2 separate regions of the Homo sapiens genome follow, and region 1 is linked to region 2. Evidence: fine-mapped expression QTL. A gene starts in region 2. The other region holds a variant in brackets. All regions are shown on one strand. Distances are between the middles of the regions. Region 1 overlaps METTL9 (methyltransferase 9, His-X-His N1(pi)-histidine). Region 2 holds the start of METTL9 (methyltransferase 9, His-X-His N1(pi)-histidine).

Region 1 (8,331 bases), 28 kb after region 2:
CTAATTTTTGTATTTTTAGTAGAGACAGTGTTTCACCATGTTGGCCTGGATGGTCTCAATCTCCTGACCTCATGATCCGCCTGCCTTGGCCTCCCAAAGTGCTAGGATTACAGGCGTGAGCCACCGTGCCCGGTCCTTTTCTGTATAGTTATTCAGATATGAAGATTCTCAAGTATGAAATATGTCTTTCCTGGGAACGGAAATGTGCTCAAAGGTCATAAGTTATCAATGGAAATTATTTTATACCACTCCCAGCCATTTTTAAGAATAGAAGGGATCCTAGGAATAGAAAACATTAATTATATGATGCATTTTTTGATTAAGTTCCAATGAATGGTAAAAAGCTGGACTCTTGTTCATTAACTGATATTCAAAAGAATTTGATGTTTTAGTTTCATAACTTTGTCAGGTTACATCTTCATACTTATTAAACATGATTAGTTCTTGTAAAGGAAACTTCGTATGTGTTGAGATTTGGAAATAGGTGAAATGCTAAATTTAAAGAAATATGGGCCAGTCGTGGTAGCTCACACCTGTAATCCCAGCACTTTGGGAGGCCGAGGCAGTCGGATCGCTTGAGGTGAGGAGTTCAAGATCAGCTTAGCCAATGTGGTAAAACCCCGTCTCTACTAAAAACACAAAAATTAGCCGGGCATGGTGGCAACTGCCTGTAATCTCAGTTACTGGGGAGGCGGAGGCAGGAGAATCACTTGAACCTGGGAGGCAGAGGTTGCAGTGAGCCGAGATTGCTCTACTGTACTCCAGCCTGGGCAACAGAGTGAGGCTGTGTCTCAAAAAAGAAAAAATTAAAAAAAAAAAAAAATGGTTGCTATTTTTCTCTTCCTTGGCCATGTCATTATTGCAAACATAAATTATAACAGAAGATTTTGAACTTAATTTAGAAGACAAAGTTAAAGCCTTTATTGTCATCTCAGTTATTTTTAAAGATGTCTTTAGAGGGACTTTATGTTAATACAGTTATTTCTGATTTTTCTAGAGTCCTTGGTATAAATGAATGGCAGAATACGGGGTTCCAGTATGATGTCATCAGCTGCCTGAACTTGCTGGACCGCTGTGATCAGCCCCTGACTTTGTTAAAAGATATCAGAAGTGTCTTGGAGCCAACTAGAGGCAGGGTCATCCTTGCCCTTGTCCTCCCCTTTCATCCCTATGTGGAAAACGGTAAGTGTGGTCAGTCAGGCTAGCTCTTACTGAGGATAGCTGTTTATTGGTATTTGTGATTTTGTGCTGTGTACAATTAAATATTGTCTAGTATGTCTTATAATAGCCTGCAGTTTAAAGTAATCCAGTTAATCCATGTAAAACACCATCTTGGTTAATGTTCACCTTAAGGTGGACTTTATAGAGGTCTAGCATTCCCCTTGCAGTGGTAATAATTAATATTTAGCTGGGTCTGACTGCTTGAGATTGAAAGCTAAAAATGCAACTGTATCTCTGGTTTTAAATGGAGCTTGAACCATTTATTTATTAGCTTTACAACTGAATCGAGCAATAAACAGTGCCTTTAAATCTGGTCGTATATACTTGCTGAATGTCATGGCTGTTTTGTTTTCCGTTTTGCATCTCTTGTGCCAGACTCTAAAAATGATAAATGCTTTTATCTGTTTTTTTCTCTTTTGAAGACCATGTGTGTTGTTGCAGCATGTATCATTTCTTTCTGTAACATTTGATTTTTTGATTGCATGGTCTTGCTCTTCAGCAATATTGAATGAAGAATATGTTAGAAGAAACGGGTTGATTTCATATCACTTCATAGTTACTGTGACTTCTGGCCATTCTGACTTAATGCCACATTAAGTTATAGTTTTAGTTTGTGTGGTTTGCATTTTAGGTCATCTTGAAAGTTATGATTTTAAGTCTCCTGCATTTTCATAAGTTAATGTACATTAATATAAAATTATTTATTTTATGAATAATACAAGTTACTATTTAAAAATCTTCAGTGTTTCATTTATTTTTTTGAGACAGAGCCTTGCTCTGTCGCCCAGGCTGGAGTGCAGTGGTGCGATCTTGGCTCACTGCAACCTCTACCTCGTGGGTTCAGGCATTCTCCGGCCTCAGCCTTCTGAGTCCCAAGTAACTGGGACTTCAGGCACATGCCACTATGCCTGGCTAATTTTTGTATTTTCAGTAGAGATGGGGTTTCGCCATGTTGACCAGGCTGGTCTCTAACTCCTGATCTCAGGTGATCCTCCTGTCTCTGCCTCCCAAAATGCTGAGATTACAGGTGCGAGCCACCATCCCTGGCTGAAAAATCTTCAGATTTTCTATTTCACTGCCTCGATTGACCTTGACTTCAGAAACTCTTAAGAGCTCACAGACATTTTGAAGAAATCTATTAGGATTTTGCAAATGTCATTATTATCAAATATGAAAATCTATGTCTTAAGGAATAATGCCCGTTTCATATAACCATTGGATTCTGTGTGGATTTGTGGTGTCACAAATTAATTTAATTTCTTGTATGTGTTTTTTCTCCCCAGATCTTAGTGCCTTCAGATTTAATGCTTGTCTTAATATTTACCAAATGGTTTCAGATTTGTGTTGATAATGGGGAAAATGGGGAATTCTTTCGATATAGAAGGGTGTGGAAAAGAGCAGAGAGAACAGATCTCCCCTTTCCCATCTTAGATCTCCATTTTTATGTTCCTGTTGTCGAGTGGTTTGTCATGGTAAAGAAAAAATGCTTTTAAATGTGAGTGTATATATATCATCTATATGTTGCAAAATGTCCTCCTTCGTGATTCAGCAACCTGATCTTACTTCAGTGCTACTCCTTCCTGTGTAATTAAGCCTCAGCTCCAGCTCTCTGTATTGCACTCACTAGTCATCAGGTTGGAAGGTCCTGGGTTCCTGTGTCCTGTTGGGCAACCGCATGATAGAACTTTAATGCTACTTCCTGGCATAGCAGGAGATGAAAGAGCAGGGGGAAGAAACATCAATCTAACCACGAATTTTATTTCCTTGTGTTTCTGATGCTAAAAATGGAGAGGAAGTCAAACTAGACAAGAGGGAAGTCTCCATGAAGTGTGGAAAACAAGCTCCTTGATTGTGGATGTGCAGAGCTGCCTGTTGAGTCTGAGGAGTCTGGCATGTGACACACTGCAGACCTGAGACAAGAAGCCTTGTTGCTATGGGTGACTTTTAGTGACCTATAAATTTTGCAGGCGCGCCACGGCACTCTATTATTGCTTTCTTTCTCTGAGTCACTAATTAGATCCTGATGATTTCCATGTGAAACCATGAGGACTGGGAGATGCAAAATGGTTTTGCTGTGTAGATTCATGAATGCTGGACTGTTGGAGGATATCTGAGTGTGCTTTGCATACTTGGCTTAATTTGTTTTTTTTTAACTAAAAGTAGTTGTAGGTGAAATGATTACTTAGGTAATTGTTTTGGTAAATGGCTTGAAGTTGAACCACAGCAGTTTTGCTATTTGGAAAAAAAATGAAAAAAATACCATTCTAATTTCAGTTTATTTGGTTTACTGACCCAGTTTTGGCTAGGGGTTATTGAATCTAGTGAGAATTATTTTAAGCACCCCCCAAAGAAGGAAAGATATGAAGTCAAGAGAAGGATAATTATATTGTAAAAATAAAAATTTAATGATGTTTAATTTTTCAAAATTGTAATTTTTATTAAAAAGTAATTCAGTAATTAAAAAAAAATACTTCAAGCAACTTACTAGAGGGTTTACAATAAAAAGTTTCTGGGCTGTGCGTGGTGGCTCATGCTTGTAATCCCAGCACTTTGGGAGGCCAAGGCAGGCAGATCATGAGGTCAGGAGATCGAGACCATCCTGAGTTAACACAGTGAAACACCATCTCTGCTAAAAATATAAAAACAAAATTAGCCGGGTGTGGTGGTGGGCGCCTGTAGTTCCAGCTACTGGGGAGGCTGAGGTGGGAGAACGGCGTGAACCCAGGAGGCGGAGCTTGCCGTGAGCCGAGATTGCACCACTGCACTCCAGCCTGGGTGACAGAGCCAGACTCCATCTCAAAAAACAAACAAAACAAAAAAAGTTTCTCATCCAGTCCAGTTCCACAATCTTGTTCAGGTTTCTTGAATATTCTTTAAAAGATAGTCTATGTAAATGTAAGTCTGTATGTACATTAAAAAAATTATACAGGCAGTTCCCAATTATAAATAACTTCTGTTGCCTTTTTCCACTTAAATGTATCTAGGAAAGTAGTTCTTACCAGCACATATGTCTCCACATGGTTGTCTACATGTAAGCTGTAGATGCTGGAGCTGGCGTGGACTGGTTCATGAGAGCTGATTGTTGTTTTGGTAGGAATTTAAGTGAACTGGTTGTTAAACATGGCCATTATTGAAATTGACCATGATGGGAGTATTTACACTATAGAAATTGGCAAACACTGCAAATAGCCATTTTCTTCTCCAAGCTGGTAGTTACACATTTACCAGCACACCACTAGATGTATAACTTTACTAGAGGAGGTCTCTAGATAGCAATTTGCTTAGTAATGTTTAAAAACAAAACACCCTCCCCTGTCCTCCCCCACTTTTTTTTCTTTCTTTCTTTTTCTTTCTTTTCTGAAAGGGACTTGCTCTGTTGCCCAGACGGGAGTGCAGTGGTGCTGTCACAGCTCACTGCAGCCTTGACCTCCTGGGCTCAAGCTATTCTCCCACCTCAGCCTCCTGAGTAGCTGGGACTACAGGTGCATACCACCACACCCATCTAACTTTTGTATTTTTTTGGTAGAGAGGGCGTCTGGCGGCGTTGTCCAGGCTGGTCTTGAACTCTTGGAATCAAGTGATTGGCCTGCCTTCGCCTCCCAGCGTGTTGGGATTATAG[A/G]TGTGAGCCACTGCACCTGGCCTTGTTTCTAACTTTAATGAAAATATTACTACTTTAAATATGATGCTAATTTTTTTTTTTTTTACTTGAAGTTGCTGTTGTTTGGCTTGAGATGTTTCTTTTTTTTTTTTTTGGAGATGGAGTCTCACTCTGTCACCGAGGATGGAATGTGGTGGCACGATCTTGGCTTACTCACTGCAACCTCCGCCTCCTGGGTTCAAGTGATTTTCCTGACTCAGCCTGCTGAGTAGCTGGGGTTATAGATGTGTGCCACCACACCCGGCTCATTTTTGTATTTTTAGTAGAGACAGGGTTTCGCTATGTTGGCCAGGCTGATCTTGAACTCCTGACCTCAAGTGATGCCCCCTCAGTCTCCCAAAGTGCTGTGATTACATTTCCCTCTTAAAGTTGTGTTATAGACTGCGTGTTTGTTTGTGTTCCTCCCAGATATATATTTTGAGGCCCCCACCCCCCATCGTGATGGTATTAGGAAGGGGTCTTTAGGAGGTGATTAGGATTAGATGAGATCATGAGAGCAGAGCCTTCCTGAATGGGATGAATGCCCTTTTAAGAGTTCCGAGAGACCTTGCTTCTCTCTACCTTCTGCCATGCAAGGATACAACAAGAGGTCAGCAGCCTGTACCTAGAAAGAGGGTCCTCACCAGAACTCATAAATTTCTATTGTTCTGTGTCTGGAATTGGTGGGTTCTTGGTCTCTCTGACTTCAGGAATGAAGCTACAAACCTTTGCGGTGAGTGTTACAGTTCATAAAGGCGGCCTGTCTGGAGGTGTTAGTTCCTTCTGGTGGGTTCCTGGTCTTGCTGGCCTCAGGAGTGAAGCTGCAGACCTTTGCGGTGAGTGTTACAGCTCTTAAAGGTGGCACGGACCCAAAGCGTGAGCAGCAGTAAGATTTATTGCAAAGAACGAAAGAACAAAGCTTCCTCAGCATGGATGGGGACCCAGCAGGTTGGTGCTGCTGGCTTGGGTGGCCTGCTTTTATTCCCTTATCTGGCCCCACCCACAGCCTGCTGATTGGTCCATTTTACAGAGAGCTGATTGGTCCATTTTACAGAGAGCTGATTGGTCCGTTTTGACAGAGCGCTGATTGGTGCGTTTACACCTTTAGTTAGACACAGAGTGCTGATTGGTGCGTTTACAATCCCTTAGCAAGACACAAAAGTTCTCCAAGTCCCCTACCTGATTAGCTAGACACAGAACGCTGACTGGTGCGTTTACAAACCATTAGCTAGACACAGAGTGCTGATTGGTGTGTTTACAAACTTTTAGGTAGACACAGAGTGCTGATTGGTACATTTACAAACCTTTAGCTAGACAGAAAAGTTCTCCAGGTCCCCACCCGACCCAGAAGCCCAGCTGGCTTCACCTCTCAATGGCACTGGCTGCGGGACTTTGCGGCACCTAGCCTGGGCACTCCGACAGCCCAGTGGGAGCTTGTCCCCCGATCAAGCCCAGCAGGCGCTGGCTGGTGGCGCCAAGTGCGGGGCCTGCCGAGCCTGCGCCCACCCGGAACCCACGCTGGCTCCCGCCTGCACCTCTCCCTTCACACCTCCCTGTGAGCAGAGGGAGCCGGCTCTGGCCTCGGCCAGCCCCAGAGAGGAGGCCCCTACAGTGCAGCCGTGGGCTGAAGGGCTCCTCGAGCACAGCCAGAGCCGACGCCGTGGCCGAGGGGGCGCCGAGAGCGAGCGAGGGCTGCTAGCACGTTGTCACCTCTCAATCCCCCGTCTAAACAGGATACCCCCAACTGCTGTTGGGAATTTGGCTGATGACCACTCTAGCTACTTCCTGCTGGATAGGGGCGAAGAAGGGGCCCTGCAGTTGTAGTGTCCTCCAGAGGGGAACTCTTTAGGCCAGTGGAAGGGCCAGCGGGTTGGTCCAGGGGTCCTCGGTAGAAGTTGTTAGTTGAGCTCATTTGGGGTTCCATTTGTAAGACCATCTATAGCTTGATGGCCTCCATTCTAGAGGAAACAAATTTGACAAGAAGGTTAAAATTACAGGGCCCAAAGGTGAGTAACAGCAAGATGGCTGCCACAGGACCTAGAAAGGGGAGAAGCCATGTTGCCCAACTCCAGAGGTTGGTACAAGAGTTTGAAAGGTGGTGTCTGATTTCAGAAGCCTTTTCCTGTAAACGCTGGGCGGCATCTCGTACTATCCCTGCCTGGTTAGTGTAAAAACAACACTCTTCTCCTAAGAAGGTGCAGAGTCCTCCCTTCTCAGCAGTGAGGAGGTCTACGCCTCAGGGGTTTTGGAGAGTCACTATTGCCAGAGAGTCTATTTGGGATTGTAGAGTATGGATAGATTTTGTTATTTCTTGCAAACTATCTGAGAAATCCTTTGATAGTGTGTAATAGTAGGATAATGAAGTAGATAAACTGGCTATTCCGGTTCCTGTAGCAGTAGCCATTCCTAACCCTATAAATAGGGGTATTAGTTGTATGGCTCTGTGCTGACGGACTTGAGCTTTGAAGAGTATTGATAGGGTCTGATTTCCACAAGATTAGAAGTTAGGATAATATATGTTTACACTGTTAACTTTTAGCAAACTTTACTTTTGTTGAAAACCTTTTAAGTTTGGGATTTCAATTATTCTTTGCTATTAATAAGACCTCGTTTAGTGTATATTAACTTAGAATTGGTATAGATGGCTCCTTCCTGATTCTGTAAGTACTTTAAGGCTCAGCTGAGTGCAAACAGCTTGCAAGTTTGAGCAGACCAATTATTAGGCAATTTTCCTAACTCTGTTTCTACAAGAGTTTCCTTATCATTTACTGAATACTCATTGTGTCGTTTTTCCTTAATCGCCCGGGAGGAACCATCTATCGTCCTGTCCTGAAGGGAGTTCCTCCTATGTCTGATTGGACCTTTGTATGGTGATTAAGATTTAGATCCCCTGTTAGGAAACCTGCTGGGTTAAGGATTTTTGATAGGAAGGCTATGGGTTGTCAGTGGCCTCAGTGCTTTCGCGCTACGCCCTTGTTTACACTGACAACAAGGTGGTATTGGAGTGTTACAGGGTTACAGAGAAGACCTTCAATTATCAATTATAGGTTTTAACTTTACCCTGGCTTTTAAAGGAATAGGGTACACTGTTTTTTCTTTACTACTTCCATCTCTCTTTCTCTTTGACTTTTTCTTTGTCTCTCTCTCTCACTGACTCCCTCTTTGTCTCTGTCTCTTTGACTTTGTCTCTTTCTTTCTTTCTCTCTGACTCCCTCTGTCTCTTCCTCTCTTCCCTTTCTGCTGGTTTTTCCCTGCCTCTGCCAGCCACTTATCCTGCTGTTCTCCCCTCTCCTTCCCCTTTTGATGGCTTTGGCAGTGTAAGACTGCCGCCTCCTTGGGTTTTTGCACTGCATGCAAAAACTCCATAATTGCCTTGTGGTATTTAATGGGGGTTCCCCCCAGAGGTTAGGAACTCCCTTTCTTTCCATATTGCAGCATTGGCATGTAGGATTACATAAGCATACTTGCTATCT
Region 2 (8,331 bases):
TCTCCTACGTTAATTAATTAAACAAATTGTTGAGTACATTTGCTAATTTTGTTAGAGGTGCTCATTGCTTAATAACTACAGGACACATTCTATTGAATATACTGGGAAAAAGCTGTATCTTTCTCTGAAGGTATACAAAACAATATTAAGAAGCATAAAAAATATCTGTCCATAAAAACATGATTATGGCCAGGTGCAGTGGCTCACGCCTGTAATCCTAGCACTTTGGGAGGCTGCAGCAGGCGGATCACGAGGTCAGGAGTTTGAGACCAGCCTGGCCAACATGGTGAAACCCCATCTCTACTAAAAATACAAAAAATAGCCAGGCGTGGTGGCAGGTGCCTATAATCCCAGCTACTCAGGAGGCTGAGGCAGGAGAATTGCTTGAACCCGAGAGGCAGAGGTTGCAGCAAGCCGAGATCGTGCCACTGCACTCCAGCCTGGGCAACAGAGCAAGACTCCATCTCGGGAAAAAAAAAGTGATTATATGAGTTATTTTTATTTTTATTTTTTGATACAGGGTCACCCAAGCTGGAGTGCAGTGGCACAATCTCAGTTCACTGCAGCCTCAGCCTCCCAGGCTCAGGTGATCCTCCCACCTCAGCCTCCTGAGTAGATGGGTCTACAGGTGCATGTCACCACGCCTGTCTTATTTTTGTATTTTTTGTAGACACGGGGTTTCTCCATGTTGCCCAGGCTGGCCTTGAACTCCTGGGCTCAAGCCATCCACCTGCCTTGGCTTCCCAAAGTGCTGGGATTACAAGCATGAGCCACCCTGCCTGGTCTATATGAGTTCTTTTTAAATCATTATCTCTTCAAGGAGATAACAATCATCAATAGGTTTTGTACAGATCCAAACTCTCTGCTTGTGGATTCTCTTAACATGATACTTTGTAATTGAAAAGAGAATATGAAAATGCCAAGCTTTGTAACTTCAAAGAACAACAATAACAAAAAGCCTTTGCCTAGAGATCTAGATAGGAAAGTGATCCCGCCAAAATTTTGGGCCTGTGTACAGGGCTGTGACCCAAGTGGGACACCTGGGGTCAATGAGCAGAGTTCGGTGCAGAGGGTCATTTGTGTATCTTTTGAATATTACTAACTGCATCTCAAGATCATGTTAGAACGAGTATTGGCTATTTGGCTTTTTGTGTCATCTTGCCCCTTCCCGTCTCCATTATGGAGAATTGAGGTTTTAATATACGGTAGTGACATTCTAGTAGATGAAGGAAGGGGGCTGTCCCCAGTGGGCAATCTGAACTTCTGCTTCGTATATTTACTCTTGCTGTTTTCGTTTCTCCTCATTTGTAATTCAGGAGGCTCTCTGAGAAGAGACAGCAAAGCTTCTTAGATGGATCGAAAGACCACGAGCTGGGATACCAAGTTCTATGAAAAGGTCAGCTATTGAATTTACTCTGCTACCTTCAGGCAAATCATTTGATCATCGGATGCTCTGGTTTCTTCCTGTGCCTGCTAAATGTAAATAGCATGGGTTTGAGTGTTTGGTGGTTATTATAGAGTATTTTAAATGTATGAGTGATTTATTTTTCTAGGCCAGCTGCTCAGATATAAAACAAAATCTGCTCCTTTGAGCTGTTAGGCTTCGTGGCAGTCAACTGACCCCAAAATCCTTCTGACTACAGCAGCCATCTACTTGCTTGTTCATCTGATAACATTTTGCAGTCTCTCAGCTACAGCTATGTGGTCTCACTCTATAGCTGGGGCATACCTTTTTGTCTCCTTTGTCTTCAGAAAGGAAATATGCCATTTTATGCACTCCTGCTGCTTTCACCCCCACTTTAAAAAGATGAAGGCTTCCTTTTGTGACAGAGTTGCTTTGTCTGTTACACTGATCCTAAGAGACAGGAAGGAGAGGTGTCATAGTAAATAAACAGTTATTGGACTTGCTACCATAGTTCCTTTTTGATGACTTGGGCCAGGACCACTAGAGGTTTGAACTAGATTTAGTAAGGCTTGGGCTTTTCGGGGTTTTGGCAGGAAGCAGTCAGGGAGTATATTGGAAAGAGAGAACACAAAATACCGAACCCCACCCACCCTGTGCCTTTTTGTTTGTTGTTACAGCCTGTTACATTAGGCAACAAGATATCCTTGTTAGCCAAAGGTGCCAAGCTGAGATTCTTAAAAGCTAATGAAAGAGCTGTTGGGCCAGGTGCGGTGGCTCACGCCTGTAATCCCAGCACTTTGGGAGGCCGAGGCAGGCGGATCACGAGGTCAAGAGATGGAGACCATCCTGGCCAACATGGTGAAATCCCGTCTCTACGAAAAACACAAAAATTAGCTGGGCATGGTGGCGCGCACCCGTAGTCCCAGCTGCTCGGGAGGCTGAGGCAGAAGAATTGCTTGAACCCGGGAGGCGGAGTTTGAAGTGAGCCGAGATCGAGCCACTGCACTCCAGCCTGGAGACAGAGCGAGACTCCACTCCGTTTCAAAAAAAAAAAAAAAAAAAAGCTGTTGGGTAAGGAATGATTTTGTTCCCCATCTGTGGCTCACCACCCCACTGTTTCATAAATGAAAATCTCTGATGTGCAACGCTGAATTAACCAAAAGGCTTACTTCTTTTGTTTTGAACTTAGACACATTTACATTATTTCTGGTGCAGTTAAATTAAAAGCACTTTCCAAACAAACCTAGGAAAGTATTAAAGTTAGGGACTCCCACGAAATGTTACTCCTTAATTGTGGCTTGGATAATAGCAGGAAGAACTGCAGACAGGAACACAGTGTAACTAACCCTTCAGTTCTGAAATGTTGCTAGGTCTCCTCGTGTTATAAATGATCAAATAAATATCCGGGTTAAACACTGCTCCCAGAGCTGAGTTCACTCTTAAGAGTGTTGGGTCCAACTTCCCTGTGCTAATTCAAGGAAACAAGGCAGCCAAGGAGTCTAACTTGAGGTCTTCATTCTTGGGCAGGGCCATCAATACATCTAAAACATTACTTGTGGGTACCCCAGCTGCGGTAGCTTCCCCAAAAGGCAGAATTTTCACTCATTCTTTATAGAAACACGTAGCCAGCAACTTCTCAGGCTTGGGGAACGGGGCAGGCGGGTCGTGGTGGTGGGGAGAGTAGAGGAGGGAGTCTGGCAGGTCGGTTCTAAATGTAAACTGGAAACTACGCATCCGAGCGGGCAACCATCACTGGCACCATTCGTCTCCGGGAAGAACCTGTGTGTGTCAGGATGCACGAAAGGAATGACTCCCCTCTTTGCGCCCCCGGGGTTAACTGCACGACCCTGTCAAAGTCCCGCCGTGGAGTGGGATGAGGGTCGAGAGGTAACCCTGTCAAAGTCCCGCCGTGGAGTGGGATGAGGCGAGGAAAGACTGGAGGTCCTTCCAGCACCACCTTGGAGGGGCAGGGAGGCTGCAGTTACCGCCTTCGGAAGTGATCTCCTCAGCCCTCAAAAAAATTAAAACCACCTCCGCCATTTACTAGAGGCCAAGGCAGGGCCGGGACACGAGAACGCGCTCCGGGCGGATGCGCGCTCCCTTTGTCCCGCCTCCCAGCGGCCCGCTCATTGGACGGAGGGAGGGCGCCGGGGGAGAAAGCGACGCGGCCGCTCGTAAGTGCTCCGGATGGAAACTGGTGCAGGGGGCAGCGGCGTTCCGCGGCCGGAAGGGAAGGGGGAGGTGCCGAGGCTGCGCGCCGGCTGCTCCTCCCCACCCCCAGCCTTTGCCCTGAAGGGGGCTGGATGGGCAAGGCGGCCGCGATGGCTCGAGCTCGGGCGGTGGCGGCGGTGGCCGGAGGCGGCGGTGCCTCCTCCTCCTCGCCCCGGCGCCGGCGGTGATCCGAGCGAGCGGCCGCGGCCCCCGATGAGACTGCTGGCGGGCTGGCTGTGCCTGAGCCTGGCGTCCGTGTGGCTGGCGCGGAGGATGTGGACGCTGCGGAGCCCGCTCACCCGCTCCCTGTACGTGAACATGACTAGCGGCCCGGGTGGGCCGGCGGCGGCCGCGGGCGGCAGGAAGGAGAACCACCAGGTACGGGCTGGGGCCGGGGCCGGGGCGGGGGCGTGGCGGCCCGGCCTTCCCGCGCTGGGCCCGGCTATTGTGCGGGACGGCTCCGCGAGGGGGCGGCCCGGCCCTCGCCCCTCCGCCTCGGCCCCTTGGAAAGTTTTCCCCGCGCCTTCCCCGCCGGGCGTCGACTCCGCGAGCCCCGGGCACCCGGCCGCGGCCCCGCGAGCGCCTTTTGTTCCGCAGCGCAGGCGGGGCATGGCCTCCCGGGCCCGATCGTGAGCGGCCCGGAGCCCCGCATTGTTCCTGGGTCCCGGGCGGTGACTGCGGACGCCCGGCAGCGGGACTGGGGAACTTTGGGGCCAGAGCGTGGCTGGGGGCGCCCGCCTGGCACCGAGGCCTGAGACTGAAGAGACCCGGCCAGATCCATTACCCCGAGAAACAAAACGAAAAGCCAGCCCCTCTTGTTGTCTCGTTGAATCCCAGAACGTACAAAGGGTCGTGAAGAAATGTAACTGTACATCGCAAGCCATTGAACTCTCCAGGCTGATTGGGGTGACATTTCTCCCTAAGCACTTAAAAAATGGGTTTGACAGGTTGTCGCTCCCATCCTACGGAACCTTCCCCTCCTACCTAGCAGAGATCTCCTTTAAACTTGGATTTAGTCAGCCTGCTAGAAAGATTGTGTGTGATGAGGAGGAAGATTATGCAAGTTTTACAGGAAGGGTTTTTAAAACAGAACGGGACGGGAGGGAGTTTTAGTTATGCATCGTGAGCGTTACGCTGTGACCGGGTAGGTAGGCTTTTCATTAGCTCAGTCTTGCGCCACTTAAACGTGTACAGGTTAACTGTAGAATTAAGTGAGATATTTCGTATATGACCTTAACATAGTTTGCAGTTAATGTTAAATTCATTGAAAAGAGGCTTTTGAACTCTGCCAGAGTGTTGGCTTGTCATAGCTAGCATTTATAATACATTTTGCTTTTCCATAGAGTATTAATTATTCCCTATATCATCTTGTGTCTCATCATTTTCATATATTTCTCATTTTCCTACATTACTTTTTTATTATGCCAGGTGTTCAGAGAATTTACACCCAGGTTGATTTCATGTGTTTTAATGAGGGTAGAGAATTGTCTAAGAAGGAGATAGAGCAATTTAGAAAAGTAGCATTTAGTCTTTAGTAATATGTATATTGGGCTTTTTTCTATTGTTAAAGGAATCCTAAATTTCTGTAAATTTTTTTGAAAGCCTCCAGCCATTGCAGTTTGTTAGGTGCAATATCAGTATCATTGATCACTTGTATGATATGGTTAGGAATGTATGTAAACTTAAATTGCAAAACCACATTTATTCCTATGGATTATTTGCTTACACTAGTTCATTCTTATAGAGACAACTCAAAGGTACTGTACCGTTGACTGTACAGTTACCAGAATGTCACATATGGAACAATGGGGTAGACAATGAATTAGAAATGTCATTTTTAACATTTTTAAGCAGTTGATAGAAATAAGGTCCTGGATAGGAGAAAAAGCGATTTATCTCCATTGATGGGGGATTATGGTTGAGTCTCTTAGCTATTGGTATTTATAACACTTATCATGATTACCCCTACTGCAGCCACTTGGTAGGTTTTTAGTGCTCATAAAAGAATTGCACTTATTTTAAAATTGAAACACTATTTCAACACTGTGATGTGTATGGAGGCGGAATTGCAGCTGTAGACATAGCCTCAGAATATCTCCCAGCAGAGGATACTTTCTGACTGTACCTTTTAAAAGCTGAATCTGTTAAGTTCTAATGAAAACTAATACTGGTTTCAGATACGTTTATTTCAGATACCGTATTTATATTCTGTGTGTGTGTGTGTGTGTGTGTGTGTGTGTGTACCCCTTCACTAACAATTCAGCAGATAATTTCTTTAGGGTGAAGACTTAATATGGTGTTTTCTGAATATTTGGGGGATGGGTCAACTCTTTTCCTTAGAATAATGAATCCAGACATTATTTTGACATGAATACATTCATATTATGAAAATAATCGTGCATGAATAAAGATTAAAAGGAACAGAAGAAAGGTGTGTAGAAACCACCATGAGATAAAGTAGGAAACTGTCCTTTCTGCACTGTGGCTGGAGTTGATAATTTGTTTTCCACTTAATATTCCAGGATCCTGGGTTTGCCTTATAACTTCGTTGCTTGTGAAGTAACTGTAACTGTTTTTCCTCCTTCAGATTAATAGTTTTATACAAGGTCTTCTAAGTGTTCAGTTGGGTGTGTGAGTTCCATAGCCAGCCACATCTGGGCCTTTTGGAGTTGCATAAAAGTAGGGTTGTGGATTTGATTGAACCATACTTAGCAAAAGTGTTCCTTCTGGTTATTTTATTAAGGAATTATGATGGAGGATTCTGTGGTTAAAAGAGAGATCTTGGGCAATGTTTATTCGTTAAAAATGGCTATTTTGTTAGTATAGTTTGGAGAGGCAAGGCTCCTTTGGGCTAAAGCTGCTCTAAAACTGTAGTAGCAGTGCCATTTTAGTAACTTGGTTTGGTGTGCTAGCTTCAAAACTGGGATTATGTTTCACTTTGGGCAAGCAAGAAGCAGGGTTTCACTTAGAGCAGGGAAGTGGCTGGGAGGCCAGACTGGTCTCACAGACTTATTTTACAGCCTATGAAATAAGAATAGTTTTATATTTTTAAATGGTTACCAAGAAAATATCAAAATAACATTTTGTAATACATGAAGTTTCATTTATGGAATTCAAATTTATTTCAGTGTCTACAAATAAAGTGTTTTTTTTTTGAGATGGAGTCTCGCTTCGTCACCCAGGCTGGAGCGCAGTGGCCCAATTTTGGTTCACTGCAACCTCTGCCTCCCAGGTTCAAGCAATTCTGATGTCTCAGCCTCCCGAGTAGCTGGGATTACAGGTGAACACCACCACGCCCAGATAATTTTTGTAGTTTTCAGTAGAGATGGGGTTTCACTATGTTGGTTAGGCTGGTCTCAAACTCCTGACCTCAAGTGATCCTTCTTCCTGGGCCTCCCAAAGTGCTGGGATTACAGGCGTGAGGTACTACACCCAGCCCACAAATAAAGTTTTATTGAAAGAGAACTACCACATTCATTTACCTGTGGTCTATGAGCTCCCTGGCTACAATAGCAGCATATTTGCTACTGTATGGCCTGCAAGCCTAAAACATTTACTACGTGGCTTCTTACAGAATAAAGACTTTTTCCAAGAGAAATTCCCAGCTTCCTTAACAAACAGCTTTTTTTTTTTTTTGGAGACAGGGTCTCACTGTGTCACCCAGGCTGGAGTGTAGTGGCACAATCTCAGCTCACTGCATCCTCGACCTCCTGGGTTCAAGCGGTTCTCATGCCTCAGCCTCTCCATAGCTGGGATTACAGGCACGTGCCAGCACACCTGGTTAATTTTTGTAGTTTTAGTAGAGACAGGGCTTCACCATGTTGGCCAGGCTGGTCTTGAACTCCTGGCCTCAAGTGATCTTCCCACATCGGCTTCCCAAAGTGCTGGAATTACAGGAGTGAGCCACTGCAACCAGCCTCCAACAGCATATTCTTAATCACAGGTTGCAGGGTGGGTAGATTGACTCACTGGGAAGAAATAGAGGCAGGCAGTGAGAAACTAGTAGATATTGTCACTTTGCAATGTTGGCAGACTCAGAATTTAAAAAGACAACAACAAAAAACTTAGGATCTATTCTTTTTGATGCATTGCACCTAGTGCTTAAAGTTAATGCAACTATTATGGAGCTACTGAAACTTTGAAAGGACCCTTAGGCCCCAGGTTCTTGGTAATAATAGCGGTTCAGTAGCTTCTCAATTGATGGAGTGAAAAAATTGTTATAGAACTCGCTGAACCAAACCACAACGATTTCTCCGGGTGACATACTGCAAGGTTTTTTAAAAGCACAGATAACATTCAATATCTGGAATTATTAAGTTGTAACTTAAAATTGCAAGTATGTGTATATTTTTGTGACTTATTTTTTCACTTTCTTATATAAGCTCAGAACTGCGCTATGCCACAAGTGATGAAGAATTCAAGAAAGAATTAAAATCCTTTTTTTTCCCCCAAATGAAAAAATACTTGGACAGCATAGCCAGAGCCAAACACTGTGCTAAAGGACAGAGTGTTTCCTGTCCCTTTACCCCTCACTTACCCTGTGGAGGCAGACTGGAGTCAGGCATGAGTTAACAATGCTTCAAGGATAGTCAGCCAGCTAAGCCGGACAGACACTGATGGATTGGCGTCCTTCTCTGAACTGCCTTCGAGAGTCTGGAGGCCTTTGCAGCTGAATACCAAAGAGACTTCAGAAAGGATTTCTTTGCTTCCTCATA

The links.
Region 1: its variant is fine-mapped to the expression of METTL9 in whole blood (TOPMed, PIP above 0.99).

What each region holds. Positions count from the first base shown.
Region 1 is chr16:21,623,934-21,632,264 of GRCh38, forward strand. It overlaps METTL9 (methyltransferase 9, His-X-His N1(pi)-histidine), which reads left to right. Exons shown (of 5, transcript NM_016025.5): 4 at 998-1,182. Among named protein-coding and RNA genes, the nearest start is that of IGSF6, 25 kb to the right of the region's middle. The variant A/G (reference allele first, on the strand shown) is at 4,841.
Region 2 is chr16:21,595,905-21,604,235 of GRCh38, forward strand. METTL9 (methyltransferase 9, His-X-His N1(pi)-histidine) reads left to right here and starts at 3,673. Exons shown (of 5, transcript NM_016025.5): 1 at 3,673-3,994. The coding sequence starts at 3,830. LOC101927814 (a long non-coding RNA gene) reads right to left here and starts at 3,481. Exons shown (of 3, transcript NR_110930.1): 1 at 2,752-3,481; 2 at 1,730-1,855. RefSeq lists a silencer at 3,660-4,279 and an enhancer at 4,388-4,952.